Regions from separate parts of the Homo sapiens genome. Here region 1 is linked to region 2. A link means that fine-mapping ties the variant in region 2 to the expression of a gene that starts in the linked region. Tissue or cell type: whole blood. Region 2 holds a variant in brackets; the other region holds the start of a gene. All regions are shown on one strand. Distances are from middle to middle.

Region 1 (8,144 bases), 25 kb before region 2:
GAGCAAGATGGGCCCCACCGCCTCTCTCCTCCATGTTCATCTTTGGTTTCCTCCTTCCTGGCCTCTGCTCTGCTCCAGCCTTGCTAGTGAGTGACTCCTGAGGACCTCCTTCTTTGCTGTCCATCCTAAATAGGGCTGCCCCTCTGTCTGCAGCTCTCCCTCCTGCATAAGAAGCCTTGGCCCCTCCTCTGCTGCCTGGCTGCTTTCAACATCTCGCCCCGCCTCCCCATTGTCTGTGATTTCTCTTCACTCCACCCAGGCCTCAATTTTCCTCACTCCCCTGGGATTTCCCTGTCCCATGTCCCTGGTGGAGTCCCTCAGGGCTGGGTGGCTTGTCACTGCATGTCTTTCTTCACTCTTTTCTTGGTCCCATCCCACAAAAGCTCTCAAAACATCACCACACCTGCTCCTGCCCATGCCCCACAGCCAGCCCCTGGCAGCCTCATCTCAATGATCAGTTCTGGGTTGTGTGTGTGAGTCCTTGGGTGGGGGTGTTTTGGTGCTCTGTCATCCAGCACCGCTGGGGTAACTCTCAAGTATAAGGGGCCATGTGGGATGCTGGGAGGACATCAAAAGACACAGGGGACTTAGTCTTGCTTTCCAAAGGCTTCCAGAGTGATTGAGGGGCCAGGAAACACACAAGCACATGCATGAAAATGAGCCAACAAATGCATCAATATGTACTAAGTCTGGCAGCAGCCGAGCTTGGAAAAAGAGACCAATAGAGCACTTGCCCGATGTGGACTGAGGAAAACTCCCTGGAGGAGATGAGATCTGGACCTGTCTGCTGCCTGCTTGAGCGAGAGATGAAGGCATTTGCCCACAAGCCCTGATGGACCAAAAACAGATTCAGGACCAAATGCTCAGGAATTGAGATCTTTGGTGCCCCAGAGCTTGACTATGGGTAGGGATTTGTGGCAAGTTGCCGAGGCAACCAGAAGACCTTTCAGAAAAGAGAAGAGTAGAAGTGGGCTTGGAAGACAGAGAGGAACAGGGATGGAAAGGGAAGAAGAGGGTTGATCAGTCTGGGCAAAGCACGAGAGTGAAGGGGTCAAGGCGTGAGGCCGGGGGAGTGGGTGAGCAGGGTAAGATGTAGGTGGTGCTGGTGGTGAGAGCAGGCCAATGACAGAAGGAGCCCATGTGATGCGGCGGGCTTGGACTCTGGAGTGAGGCAAGCGTGGCTTGTCAGTTACCTGCTGGATGACTTTGGGCACATATTTCAACCTCTATAAACCTAAGATGCCTTTTCTTTAAAATGGGGCTAAGAGCTCCCACGACGCAGACTTTGTGTGGTATTTAAATGCAATGTGGCTCCTAACAGCATAGTTGCTGCCTGTAGATGTTAGTGTCTCTTTCTTTCTCATTTTGTCTTTATTTCATAAATGCACAGTACATAAGTAAGCCAGGAGAGAGTGTGTGGCTCACACCTTTCCTGCATGTGGTTCTTCATATCCCACACACCCACACTGATCCTGGGGACATCACAGGAGATGACGGGCCTGGTCTGGCAGCACTGCAGCTCCAGCTCTGTTGGGCTGCCTCGAAAGTGGGCAGTGGAAAAAGAAAAGGAGTTTGATTCAACAATTGGAAGAGTCTCAGGAATTGACTTATGACTTGGACACTTTTTTTTTTTTTTTTTTTTTTTTTTACTTTTTTGGGCCTGTGCTCTCACTTCTCTGTGAGGCAGGTTAGATGATGTGACCTTTGAGGCCCCATGGATGAGAACATTCTGTAATTCTCTGTGTACTTGTTTATAGGGCCCAGTTCCACTTGCCTGTCTTTGAGCCTCTTCCCGGTTCAGGGAGGAATGTCACTTGAATTGAAATCAGAAAACCCAGATTCTGCTTCCAGATGTGTCTTTTCCTAGCCGGAGTGTCTAGAGGAAGCCACTTAATCTCTGAGAATCAGTTTTCTGTTTCATGAAATGGGTTGAGAACAGCTTGATTGCCTAGTTCTCAGGGCTCTTGTGGGATGCTCTTTGCATATGTGTTTGGTGGGGTGAGCTGTGCAAATGTAAGCTATGGTGAGGTTTATGGCACTTATTCCTGCTAGTCCTGCATTTCTCCCTTCTCACAGGAGCACCTGGGGTATGTTTTGCAGCTAAGTTGTCTACCAATTCCCTGACCATTCATTCAAACCTTTGATTTTTCTGTATGTCAGTTTCTTAGTTCAAAGATGGGAGTGTGGATCACTGCCAAGGTCTGTTTTTGGCTGGCACACACATGCACACAAACATGTGTGCACACAAACATGTGTGCACACACATACTCACACCCCTCCAAAATGCTAGAAGGAATCGATTGTGCAGAACAATATGTCTCATGAGGGAGTATGCTGAACTAAAATAATTTTGATTGCTTGTCAGAAAATGATTAGGCAACAGTCATTACCATGCCAAGACTGTCCCAGTCTCCATTGTTCCTAACAAGACCTGAATTACTCATTCCCTAAAGAGATGGTTGGTTTAGCAGCCGAAGGATTTTAGTGCTAGGACAGAGTCCCAGACAGCAGTGCCACAGTGATGGCGAGGGAGAGGAGTAGCAGGGGAGCGGTGAGGGGCACTTTCTGGAGGAGGGTATAGGGCAAAAACTGGGAGGAGAAGAGGGACAAGGTTCAATAGCGGAGTGCAATGGAGAGGACCGACACAGCCAGCCCGATTCAGAGCCACAGAGTAATGGGACCAGATGATCTTCACAGACTCCCTTTCTCCCATAGATCTTGCACACCATAGTGGAGACTTCCCATGTACATCTATGGTTTGCCACTTACAGAGTTACTTGGAGCCAGCTGAAGTTAGAGCTGGCTTCTCCCCTTTGAGTCTTCAATTCTGTGTTTATGTGCAGGCCCGGGGACCATGCCAGGCTTCTAAGAAGTCTTCGAATGAAAGTCTGCTTGGGCTTCTAGTGTGTCCAGATCTCAGTGCCACTATTATCCACTGATATTGATCAAGTGCTGCTCTCCAGGAAGACCCCTGAGGTTTCCTGGTCCATTGCAATGCATGCTGGGTACTCTTGCACTTGGATGGAAGTAAAATCTCCTCACTAAACTCTGTGCCACCAAAATCTCCTTCTCAGTGTGAATTGAAGAAACATTTTCCAAGACTTGCATGTGCCAGGAGCCAAGGACTCAGAGTGATAAAACAGGCCTTCTGCCCTCAGAGCTCTCTGTGGTGGGGCGCTTCCTGTGCTGTCTGGCTTTACACACAGCAGGCAGAATGACTTGAATTCGGCTGCTGTGCTGTCGTACAACATGCTGTTTAGGATCTTGCACATGATAGCTAGGTATTCTTGCTTCAAATCGCAGGCACCCCACTTACCAACTGTGTAGACTTGATCACGTTATTCAACCCCTGTGTCTCTGCTTCCTCATTTTACAAATGGGGAGAAAAATAGCATCTATCTCAAAGTTGTGAAAATTAAGCAAGTTAATACATATGTGCTACGTAGAACAGTGCCTGGTACATGGTCAGTTTTTGATACATGTTAGGTATTATCATTATTATCACCTCCAGAAACAATTTAAACTTCTCATATAAGGCTCTCCAGACACCTCTCATTGTCTTCCCTTCCAAATCTGCATTTATCTCTCTCTCTTTGCAGTCCAGTGTGAGGCTTGAATCACCTATCAAGCCTCACCTCCACCCCTGTGCTTTACAAAATGTCCTAGAGCTTCTATTTACTCGTCTCACTGCTCTGTGGGCTTTTTCACTCAAGGGCGTTTGCATGCTATCCATTGCTACCTGTTTTCTATTGCTGGTGTCTGTCTCCTGCTCTATCTTTGAAGAAAAGAAACAAGAAAAGGAATAACTGAGAAACAGAGAAAAAAAATGTCTCTCCCTTCTGGTTCTTCCAGACCACCCACTCATCCATCTTGTTCAATGACAGCTTCTCTTCCTTTAATTAATCACTGTGGTATATTTATAAAGCTTATATTTATGAAAGACCTTTTAATTTTTTAGTTATTAAAGCCCTTTCTCTTTGTCAGGTTGTAACTGAGTGAGCTCTGGAGTTTGGAAAGAAGATCTTAGAAATGGGCCAGAGAGCTCCTTCTGAGATCCAAGCACGGGGAATTGCACCTGCTGTGCATGGTAAGAGAGTGTGCTTGGTAGCTCACAAAGGCAAGGTGAGAATAGAAACTTTCATGCCTTTTTGATGGGGGTTATGAAATCCTACCAAGAAACACCAGGTATCAGATGTGGGGTCCTGTTTTCCCAAAGCCACAAATGCTTGAAGGAAGATCTTGTGTGATAAAATAATTACCACATGAACCAATCTTGCATGCACAGCAATTTTGAGAGCCCATCCTGGGAGCTAGGTGTGTAGTGTTTATCGTATTGTTGAGGCTCGTAAAAATCTTGTATGGCTGCAGGCAAGCCAAACCCTTGACAGGCACTGCATCTCCGCTGACTCTAGAAGACCAAGCCCAATTTCTTCCCTGTATATAAGGGGAAGTCTCTATGCTTGGGGTAGAGGAGTGTTTAGCTCCTTCCCTTACTCTACCTTGCTCCTACTTTTCTCTAAGTCAACATGAGTCGACAGTTTAGTTCCAGGTCTGGGTACCGAAGTGGAGGGGGCTTCAGCTCTGGCTCTGCTGGGATCATCAACTACCAGCGCAGGACCACCAGCAGCTCCACACGCCGCAGTGGAGGAGGTGGTGGGAGATTTTCAAGCTGTGGTGGTGGTGGTGGTAGCTTTGGTGCTGGTGGTGGATTTGGAAGTCGGAGTCTTGTTAACCTTGGTGGCAGTAAAAGCATCTCCATAAGTGTGGCTAGAGGAGGTGGACGTGGTAGTGGCTTTGGTGGTGGTTATGGTGGTGGTGGCTTTGGTGGTGGTGGCTTTGGTGGTGGTGGCTTTGGTGGAGGTGGCATTGGGGGTGGTGGCTTTGGTGGTTTTGGCAGTGGTGGTGGTGGTTTTGGTGGAGGTGGCTTTGGGGGTGGTGGATATGGGGGTGGTTATGGTCCTGTCTGCCCTCCTGGTGGCATACAAGAAGTCACTATCAACCAGAGCCTTCTTCAGCCCCTCAATGTGGAGATTGACCCTGAGATCCAAAAGGTGAAGTCTCGAGAAAGGGAGCAAATCAAGTCACTCAACAACCAATTTGCCTCCTTCATTGACAAGGTGAGTTTCTCTCTCATTGCACTGGTAGGGCTGCCGCTGGTCCACTTGGGATTGGTGCAGTCAAAACACAGTAGGTTTGAACCTCAAGTTTCCATGTTTACATGATTAAAAGGATGTTTTGTGGAATGGTCTCCTAGGAGATATGTTAGATGTATGCTTGTGAATGGTGTTAATGACTCTCTCTTTGACAAAGGGTTCGTGGTCGACCTAAAGGTGGGTCAGTGTGACATTAACATTTAAGTGCTTTTTATTCAGCTCTTGAGCGGAATTGGGACTCATATCTGTTGAATGAAGATAATAGAAATGGGGCTAACTGAACTTTCCAGGGTGCAAGTGAGAACCCTGGAAAGGTCTTCCTAACCATAGAAAGGGAGTTGAGTGTGAACATAGTATAGAGTGTTATTGTAGCAGAAAACATGTGGTCAGTCAGTGCCAAACATCTTTTGCTGTCAGAGGGGAGCTCTGCCTTCTAATAATTTTACATTGGTACTGGATGAGGCTAGAGTTTTTTTATACTAATATCTCCAAAAATCAGCTCTAAAAAACTCAGATAAACCATTTTTTTAATTTTTTGCTTAATCATTAATAGTGCCAATCCAAGGTTATCCACAACAAATTTCAAATCCAATTTTGAATTTTCCTGATATACTTTTGAAATGTGTGTGTGTCCTGGGGATGCAAACCAGTTTTTATGGTAATATACCTAACAAAATTTTGGAAGGCAAATCTCTTAAATACCATGCACCTATTTCAAAACATAATTGCAATAATTCTGTATGCGCTTTGCTATTGGTATTTGTTTAGTTACTCCCTTCCAAGCCCTCTCTGAATTAACAAGTTGGGTTTTATTATGCAGATGATATTAACTTGATCATCTTCTTCCTATTTCTCTGTCATGGTCAGAAGATAGGAATTGAGGTTCTTTTCCAAATGAGGCACAGTTCTCCATGGCTATGAGACTCCATTTATGCATCAGGAGTAAAGGGGTCTTGTGTTTTTAGGTGAGGTTCCTGGAGCAGCAGAACCAGGTACTGCAAACAAAATGGGAGCTGCTGCAGCAGGTAGATACCTCCACTAGAACCCATAATTTAGAGCCCTACTTTGAGTCATTCATCAACAATCTCCGAAGGAGAGTGGACCAACTGAAGAGTGATCAATCTCGGTTGGATTCGGAACTGAAGAACATGCAGGACATGGTGGAGGATTACCGGAACAAGTAAGGGACCCTGTCTGGGCAGTTCTTAACTTTTGCTGTAAAAGAGTTCCAGAAAGTAATAAGCTAAGATCATGAAGCAGCATGTAGCTATGTCTTTTCTTAGGTTAGAGGCACATCAGTTTGACATTTTCAGAAATCTTCATTTTCTCAGGAGATGGAAATAGTCTAGTGGTTTTATTGCTCAGTAGAAAGTAGTGGCCAATATGTCCTAGGTTCATAATAGAAAGGCAGTGATAGGCAATGCCACCTTTAGTTTAGAATGCTGGACTTCAGGTCTTACCACCTCTGAATCTCCTAATTGTTTCTGCTTTCCTGCAGGTATGAGGATGAAATCAACAAGCGGACAAATGCAGAGAATGAATTTGTGACCATCAAGAAGGTAAGCAAATTCTGTAGGACGGAACTCACATTTGAAATAAATAAGGGAAGAGGGTCTCCAATTACTAAGCAGAAAGCAGCCATGATATGGAGAGCCAGGTAGTAGACCTGGGGAGTATATGGAGTGGGGCTATATTTTCACATCATCATGGACCTGGACTGATCCAGGCACTTGGCTTCTCCATATTTCCCAGCACCTTACATAGTAAGTGGAGTGGCAGATTCTCAGCAAGCCAGGCACACTCCCTTGATGGTGCTATCCGGGGGTGGGACAGTTAGGGAACTGTGATTTACCTGGGGCAAAAAGGAGTGGAGTAGACCCAAAGCTCCTTTTTTTGCTTGGAGAATCCCCTCACAGGTAATGAGAGGGACCTGCCCTGGAGAGAATGTGCCTTCATGATGTCCCTTGTTCCTCTAGGATGTGGATGGTGCTTATATGACCAAGGTGGACCTTCAGGCCAAACTTGACAACTTGCAGCAGGAAATTGATTTCCTTACAGCACTCTACCAAGCAGTAAGTCTTCCAGTTTCAACCAAGTTTATCTAAATGGAGAGTTTTTAAGCCTGAACCCACAACGATTCAGAAGAATAGATATTTATCTTTTATTTTCTGACTGCTTTCTCTGTCTAAGTTGTTTTTTGTTTTAGTGCTGTAAGAGTCACTAACCTATTATGTCTTGCAGGAGTTGTCTCAGATGCAGACTCAAATCAGTGAAACTAATGTCATCCTCTCTATGGACAACAACCGCAGTCTCGACCTGGACAGCATCATTGCTGAGGTCAAGGCCCAGTACGAGGATATAGCCCAGAAGAGCAAAGCTGAGGCCGAGTCCTTGTACCAGAGCAAGGTGAGTGGGCTGAAAGCCTAGCCAGTTTCCCTGAAATGGCTTGTCTTGCTATCCTGTGTTATCTCATGTATGTGTGCCTGTGCCATGCTGAGTTCTGCCTACATTTAACAAACGCTATCTACCATCTTTAGTATGAAGAGCTGCAGATCACTGCTGGCAGACATGGGGATAGTGTGAGAAATTCAAAGATAGAAATTTCTGAGCTGAATCGTGTGATCCAGAGACTTAGATCTGAAATCGACAATGTCAAGAAGCAGGTATGTGCTTTCTCCTTCTACCACTCAGCTGTATGGAATGGGGGTAACCCTCAGGTAAAGGGCGAGTGCTTTCCTAGTTTTGAATCTTGCAATTCATCCCAAGGCTACATTATTATCCCTGGTTCCTTTTGTGACTATGCTAGTTTCCAGAATGCAGCCATCATGCTGGGTTCTCTTTAGGGAAATCTGTGAGAATGGCCTAGTAGAGAAAGATGGGATGGTCAATGTGAGTGATCTAGCCTATGACCCAAAGTGGACTTAAGAGTTGGGGAGTGAGAGGAAGGGCAGCCAGGAGGTTTTAGAGTAGGTGTTTAGAAGAATGTCAAGT
Region 2 (8,202 bases):
TACCCTTCACTGCCCACTGCCTGAGTGCAGGGATCCTGGGTATAGGCAGGGCAAGGGCCCCCTGCCCAACCTTCCTGCTCTGGCTGTATCTGGGCTCAGTACCACACATGGCAGTCTGTGTCCATGCCTCTGTCCCCAGAGAGAGCAGGATGAGGGCCTCTGAAACTGGGTATTAACAAGGCCCCAGATAGTTCTCTGCTGTCTTGGCAATGCCACACCGAAGAGGCTGCCCATTGTATTCACACTCCGAGTGGTGGGGAAGGATCCTCACGTTCCCTGGCCTTTCTAGTGGGTGACATGAACTCCCTGGGACATGGGAGGAGGGAGGATCCCCTTTTCCTCACATTCAGTATGATAGTCTACTATACTGCCCCTGCCAACTCCTCCTTGGCCCACCGCCACCCCCACAGCAGCCCTCCCCTCTTTTGTGCTTGCCCACTCACGTCTCTACCCCTTTGGGCCTGAGCAGAAACCCAGAACATCAGACACTGCAAAGGCCTCTGCGTGTGTCTTGATGATTAGTGTCTGCACAGGACCAGGCAGTGGAAAATGTTGGCAGTAATCTGGTTTCATGGATTTGCCCAGACAAGCCTGCCATCATGTCCCCATTCTAAAATTCTGTCACTATCACCTCTCTTTTCCTTACCAGAAAAACCTTATTTCTCCCTAATAGTATGAATGGCATGGAGTTAATCCCTGTACAGAGAGAAGTGCAGGCAACATCTGGTCTTCCAATATATGGACAGCGAGCTGAGTTCATGGATATATTAATGGGCCTCCAGAGGACTCCTGACCAGAAGGAGTGGGTGTCTGGAGCCTCTCCTGAAAGAGGGGTCCTGGGAAGCCCCCAGCATATAGGCTGTAGTGTGTAAGTGCCAGCTGAGTGCCCATGTGGAGGCCTGGTGGGGAAGGCGGGTCCATGCAGAACCATACAGACTTCCAAAGGGTCTTATTGGAGAGCCAATGAGATTGGCATCTTTGGTCTTGATCTGAGTGGGAGAGACACAGCCTGAAGCATGCAAACCCAAACGAGGCAGGGTGTCTAGGCATGAGCCAGGAGCAGCAAAGCAATGCCCACCCAAGGGAGGGGAGAGAACCTGGAGATTTTACACACCCAGAGCCCCCTCCAAACCCAGGCAAACTTTCCACAAAACTTTCCCTAGTGCTTGACATGGAGCTCCAGAAGAGGAGGTAAGGTTCTGCCTGCCCCGGGTATGCCGAGCCCAAGGGAAGAGAAAGAATTAAAGGAGAAGCAACGGACCAGGATCTGAGAAACTTTGTTTAGCTTTTGGAAATGGTGAGAGGTTATTTCAAAGAGACAGTTATTTATGGATCTACTCTACTTCTTGGTATCCTTGAGAAAAACAAGAGATATAAGCCCCTAAGGAGCTTACAGTTGGGGAATCAAGATATAATGAACTCGTGCCTTTTGGGCCCTGACTGATGGCAGCTCCTGCCTGATGGCAAACCCTCCTATTCAGCTGCAGCGTACCTGTTTGCCCTTCTCTCTCCTCTCTGGCTTCCCTTTGTCTACTTTACTGCTGCCATTTCTTCCTTCATCTCTTGGTGAGAAAATAACCGAAAGCAGGGTCTGTGTCTGCACATTTTGTCTCTACGCTTTCCCAGAGTTTGCATCTGCTCTCAGGGCTTTAGCTATTGTGTCCATTTAAAGCACAAACTGATGTCTGAAATGGAAGGAATCGGTGTAGCCCGGCGCCTCCACTTTACAGATGAGAAAATCAAGGCTCAGAAAAGCTGAGGTTCCTTAGGTTCTGGAGGCAGTTGGCCACAGGAATGCATGTCCTCTACCTCCTTATCTAGGAGTCACCCTGTTCCTGTTGGTTTTCAAATCCCTCAGTCCACAGGGGAGGAAAGGGGGACCCAGCAAGGGAGGTGACATGCCAAGGTGACAGGGCTGGCTTCTGGCAGAGGAACCCAACCTTCACTCCTAAACACATTCCTCCCAGTTTATCACATGGCTTCCCTTATAAATGTACTTCTAAATAGAGACTAATATACTTCTTTGAATACCCAATGGACTATGAATTGTGCCTATGGCTCATAAAAATATAATTCAGGTCGTAAATTTAATAATCTCACATGAATGACTATACTAGCTCTGTTAAACATTAATTGCTTAATTAGCAATGATTCCACCTGCTTTTTTAGAATTGAAAGGCTTTTAAAGAAGAGCCTGTGGTGGAAAAAAAAAGCCGTCCAGAGAATTTTGAGCAGTTTTATTTTCCTTTTTTTCTTTGCTTCATAAAAATCCCTGGAGCAATCAGGTCATTCAGAATCAAGCCTTTGGCCTTTGCTTCCAACGTGAGGCATCCCAGCACCCACAGTCTGACGGTGTGTCTAAAACCTTTGTTGCTAGAAAGAGGAGCAGGAGTCTCTTGAATTTGGTCTTATAAAATTCAATTAACTTTCATGCTTACTCTCTCTCTGATTTTTTGGTGGGGGGATGTTTTCCCACCTGCCTTCTTCTGCAATGATCTCTATCCGAACAAATGCAGGAAGCCTTGAAAGAGCTCACAAGGGGGTGGCGGCAGCTCTCAGTGATGGGACAGAGAGGTGGGGCTGGTGTGGGAGAGCAGGTGAGGGCTGGGATGTCTCTTAGAGCTTCCTGTGGTGCATGGCACAGGCTGCTGCTGAAGAACTGGCGAATGCCCAGGTGGAGGCATCCAAAGTGAATTCCAGCTGTCAGTGGCAGCAGCACAATATAGCATTAGTTGGAAGGCTCCTCTAGATGGAGAAGTTGGGTAAGAAGGGGGCAGCATTAAATCTGGTGAAACCTGGAGAAGTCTGCACTGTGAGGGTGGCGTGAGTGGTATGATTACAGCGACTCCATTTTTCTGAAATCATGACCAGGATGGGATGGAGTATTTCACAGCTGTCTTGTCCTTCCACATTTGTGTGGCTACACAGATCATGGACAAAATATGAATATCAGTGCAAGAGCAGAAGGAGAACGTGGTCCGGGGAAACAGTTCGGCTGGAGTGAGGACTGCACCTGGGAAGGGCAAGAGCTTTTCACAGACGACCCTTTGAGGCTTTCTCTGTGTGAATGAAGACTTGCTGTAGTTGGGAACACACAGCCACATGTCACACTAGTATCATTAACTAGACCACAGTTTAGCAAACAAGGCCCAGGCCCCCGGGAGTTGCAGTAGCCTATGGCATACAGCAGAGCTAATTCAACTGGAGACTGATCCCACTGAGAATAAAGCTGAACTGTGTCACTTGCCATTTTCTGGGTCAGATATTCTGGGGTCCATTTGGAAAATTAGACCTATACATGACATGGCCTTGGCTATGGGAAAGGAGGTGACTCGCTCTGTGCTAGGCGCTGATGGCTCATATCCTCTTGCTAGACAGCTGTCTTGTTCAACCAACATGTGTAGGGTCCCTGCTGTGCACTGGGCAGTGTCCCTGCCCTCTCTCCTCTTCTGCTTCTGGGGCCAGCATTGTTTCTGAGCAGAGGACACATCCTGCTTTCCTGATAAGCCTGCCGTGTGTGTCCTGGAATCTCCTCGTTCCAGAATGGGCTCTGTACAGTGGGAATGTTTGGTGCTTCATGCTCAGGGTGGACGTGGCTGCCTGCCAGCCTGGCTCCTCAGTCATAACCAGTTTGGCCAGAGCACCTGAAAATCAAACAGCTACCTGTCTCGCTGTAAGAAAAGGGGCCGATCGAAAAAAAAAAAAAAACTGAAAAGGAGATGTTAGGTAAGAAAGGAGGGGAGCCTGGGCCAAAATGGAGAACTGGGTCAGGGGCTGGGAAGAGAGACTGAGTAGGCAGTTTTAAAATGATCATTTATGAAGGAATGCCCTGGAGGGAGGTGTTGAGCAAGTCTCTCCTGCTGGGTGTCTGTCAGCCTCCTGTCCCTTCTTTTCTGGGAGCCATGGGAGCTGCAGAGCTCCTTGGAGCAGCACCTGGGCGCTCTGATGGAAGGTACCCGGAGCCAGCAGCCCATGCAGAGGCCAGGCAGCCGCTGCCCATGGAGGCTTCTGCTTCCAGCTGACCTGCTGCTCAGCTTGTTCCAGCCTCCTGCTGACTCGCCTCTCTGTCTTCCTAACTTCTTTCATGACGTTATTGGACTCTCTAAGGATTTTGGTCCTCTTGAGCAGCCTGAG[C/A]CCAGCAGCAGGGGCTGGAAGAGGAGGGTTTTTTTTTTGTTTGTTTTGGTTCGGTTTTCTTAAACCCAAACTCTTGGTTTCCATTCCAAGGTGGTAGGAGCCAGATGCCCCGAGGGCTCAGCAGCCGTCTCCAGCTGATGCACTGAGTCTTTGGGAAGGAGAGACTAAACTCACTGGCTGGAGGAGAGAACCCTGATCAGGGCTGAGACAGAAACCTGAGACAACTCCAAGTGGGACCTTTAGGCAACAGGTCCATGAAAGGCTGCGAAGACTTCAAGCATTGCCAGCATCACATGCACACATCTGGAAACACCTGCAATTCCAAACCAAAAACCAGAGAAATGATTTTTTTGGAATACAGGCTTATTCTTCAAGTGATTCTCTGTGCTGAGGGGATAAAGGTTTGGGTTAAAGATAAATATGACCTTGCCTCTACCCTACAGAAGTCCTGGGACATGGTTCATTGTCACACAGGGAGGACTGTGATGATGAGGCTGTAAGGCAGGTAGATACGCCACTGCTAAAGGAGAACAGAAGAGAGGGAAATGAATTCTTACCTGGAGACTCTGGTGTTAGCATCCACACTAGGTTGAGCATTTATTTCCTGTTGGCTAGACAGTTAACCCCTTCTCTGCTTAATACTGGGGGCTCATTTTTTCTGCCCCACTGGCCAATAGACGAGCTTTTGAAACACTATGAGGAGAAGCATTTAGGATCTTGGACTTGCTGGCAGTTTGTTGAAAGAAAAAGTGGGGAACAGGAAGAAGGATTTTGTTCTATAGGATTCCTGTTCTCTTCTCAGAGACAGTGAAGCTTAACACTCTTTGCAGCAATAGCTCGATGTCCTTGTGGGACAGTAGGGATTCAGGATAAATATTCCTATTTTATAGATGAAGAAATTGAGGATACCAGTTGCGTAGAGGCAAAATCACAACCAGACCAAGATTCTTAACTTCCATTTCACTCTCTTAAAGAATGCAAAGCATATTATCTAGGAAAGCACATTGAGATTATGTAAAAGTTGAAAATTTAAAAATATAGAAATAAAATGTTACATAATATTCAAATTGCATTAATTCTAGTCTCCACATTTCAAAAGAGTAGGAGGACTCTTTCAACTTGACTTTCAAAAATTGGTGAATGGGTCTAGAAGGAGAAGATGTTCAGTGGAGAGAGTGGGGAGGGAGACCAGGGTGTGAGGGCAGAATTAAAATGCAGTAAAACATGCAGATTGGGTGCCTAGCACAAATCTGGCTCAATTTCCTTCATAGAGGCATTAAGACCCCCCTGAAGCTGCCATAGTGTGAGCACAGTCATGGTGGAGTAAGGGACGACTAGGGCATTGCTCAGATATCTGTAGATAATGACACATTTTGCTTTGGATTGAGACTGTCTCCAAAGCTGTTAGCTTCATGATTTGTTTGCATGATTATAATTATGCAAACCAGATTGGAAAAAATAATTGAGGAGACATGTAGCTTTGTTTCCTTCAGCATTCTTTTACTGCAAATTAAATACCTTGAATAGTAGTTAAGACAGGATTGGAAACTTGGCGGGGAAGATGCAGAAGGGTGAATAGCATTTATTGAGTTTCTGCTATGAACTAGGAACTGTGTTTAGCACATGTGTGTATTGTTCTGTTTTCACAGTAGCCATATTCTTATTATTCTTGTTCACTTTTTATAGATGAGGAAACTGAGGCTTGAAGAGGATTATGGATTATCTGAGGTCATTTAACTAAGATACAAGAAAATTGGGATTTGACCTCAAACTTATGTTTTTTACATTATTTTGTGATAACTTGGTACTAGGATCTGAACCACCTGGTTCTGTAATTTATGATGCCTGTGGAGAGTGCATGTTCATAGTAGCCAGAAGACAGTAACATGGCAAGGGGGAAAGGAAAAGGAATTATCTTTGTCTCACCCCAAACAATAATGATACTGACATTTTATTGTGCACGGTGGTTTTCAAAACACTTCATACGAATTTCCCATTTTATAGCTGGGACCACAGAGCCTCAGGGTTTCATTCAAGGCCTCACAGCCAATAAATAGCAAAACTGGGACTCAAACCCAGAATTTCTGACTAAATTCAGTTTTATTACTCCAAGAACCTCTCCCACATAGTTGGCCACATGGACAGAGGAAGTGGTTGAGTTTAAGTGTGAGTGCTCTGTGCAGGCTGGATGGTCTTCTTATCCTCAAGCATCTGTGGATGTCATTGAAGAGCCTGACTTCCTAATCACTTCCCAGGATCACCAGGCAATACGTGATTACTGACTGACTGAATCAATATACACTTGGATCTTGGTTTGCAAACTTTCACTTGGTGTCCCGCATCACACAGGTCCAGAAACAGCGAAACTTTTCTCATACCTCTCAACCTCTGGGTGTTCATGTAGACAAGGGACAGTTGATGGTTATACAAACCATCATGGTTATAAAAAATCTCTATTCGGTGCCTAGTTATTGTGTATTTTTGGTGTGGCATGGGAAGAAAAGAGCCAAGATATTTTGAAAATCGACACCTCTTTTGCAGTATCCGAGGCCAATTACTTTCTGTAAGAGGAGGTCGATTTCCAATTAGCATTTAAGGTCATTTAAGACCTTTGCAGTCTCCCCTGCACTAGTTGGGGCTCTTTCTGGGAAAGAGGGAAACTACAAGAGAACTACAAGGCTGGCATTGAGGGGCTCTTGCAGTCTCTAAACCCACCATCCCTTTCATTGTTGAACTGGGGTGGTGAGCCTGCACAAGCATGGGTGGTAGCTGACTTCCCTTGGGCAGGTCCAGAACAGGGAGCAGCATTCTGCAGAAGGTCCTTTTCCAGATTGAGAAACCCAAACCCTGATCTCCTCTTTTGATGATTTTACAAAAATCAAATTGCATGACAGATGCCCAGATAAACAGAAGTTTGCAATCAAAGCAAGTTCTGGGATGGAGCTGATTAGTAGATTTTTAATGGCTATTAGCTTGATAATCACGCACCAGGAATAGCTCCCAGGCAGACCAAACCCACGTATAAGTGGATCCACACCCATGTACACAACACCTAGTTGGCAGGTATATAAGGGGACCCTGAAAGCCTCCCAGCAGCACAGTTGAGTCTCCAGCCTTGACTCTTCTCAAGAGCCTGTGACTTTCCTCCCTGGACAAAGGCATCATGAGTTGTCAGATCTCTTGCAAATCTCGAGGAAGAGGAGGAGGTGGAGGAGGATTCCGGGGCTTCAGCAGCGGCTCAGCTGTGGTGTCTGGTGGAAGCCGGAGATCAACTTCCAGCTTCTCCTGCTTGAGCCGCCATGGTGGTGGTGGCGGGGGCTTCGGTGGAGGCGGCTTTGGCAGTCGGAGTCTTGTTGGCCTTGGAGGGACCAAGAGCATCTCCATTAGTGTGGCTGGAGGAGGTGGTGGCTTTGGCGCCGCTGGTGGATTTGGTGGCAGAGGAGGTGGTTTTGGAGGCGGCAGCAGCTTTGGAGGTGGCAGCGGCTTCAGTGGTGGTGGTTTCGGTGGAGGCGGCTTTGGTGGAGGCCGCTTTGGAGGTTTTGGGGGCCCTGGTGGTGTTGGAGGTTTAGGGGGTCCTGGTGGCTTTGGGCCTGGAGGATACCCTGGTGGCATCCACGAAGTCTCTGTCAACCAGAGCCTCCTGCAGCCTCTCAACGTGAAAGTTGACCCAGAGATCCAGAATGTGAAGGCCCAAGAGCGTGAGCAGATCAAAACTCTCAACAACAAATTTGCCTCCTTCATTGACAAGGTGACTCTGGAGAAGACGGCTCCCACTGATGCTCAGGCCACTTCACTTCCAGAGCCAACCAAAAAGAAAATGGCACAGATTTGTATTTCTTAGGAGCCAGTGGTGTACCGCAGTAGCCTGGGTCATTTGCGGTTTCCAGATGGAAAAGACGCCAGCTTTGTGGGTTACATTTCCCATAACAGCCTGCACTTAGGAAGCATTTGTCCCTTTGACCTTATTGTTACAGTCCATATAAATAATATTTATGGAAAATTCTGAAAACCATAAAAAATGGATATAGGCAAGTATTGAACTGATCCTTGGGACAGGCCACTGGAGCA

Evidence for each region. PIP is the estimated chance that this variant, and not a neighbour inherited with it, causes the effect.
Region 1: KRT1 starts here. The variant in region 2 is fine-mapped to the expression of KRT1 in whole blood (TOPMed, PIP 0.98).

What each region holds. Positions count from the first base shown.
Region 1 is chr12:52,676,731-52,684,874 of GRCh38, reverse strand. It overlaps KRT1 (keratin 1), which reads left to right and starts at 4,468. Exons shown (of 9, transcript NM_006121.4): 1 at 4,468-5,117; 2 at 6,119-6,333; 3 at 6,652-6,712; 4 at 7,130-7,225; 5 at 7,395-7,559; 6 at 7,691-7,816. The coding sequence starts at 4,527.
Region 2 is chr12:52,651,238-52,659,439 of GRCh38, reverse strand. It overlaps KRT2 (keratin 2), which reads left to right and starts at 7,229. Exons shown (of 9, transcript NM_000423.3): 1 at 7,229-7,882. The coding sequence starts at 7,298. The variant C/A (reference allele first, on the strand shown) is at 4,135.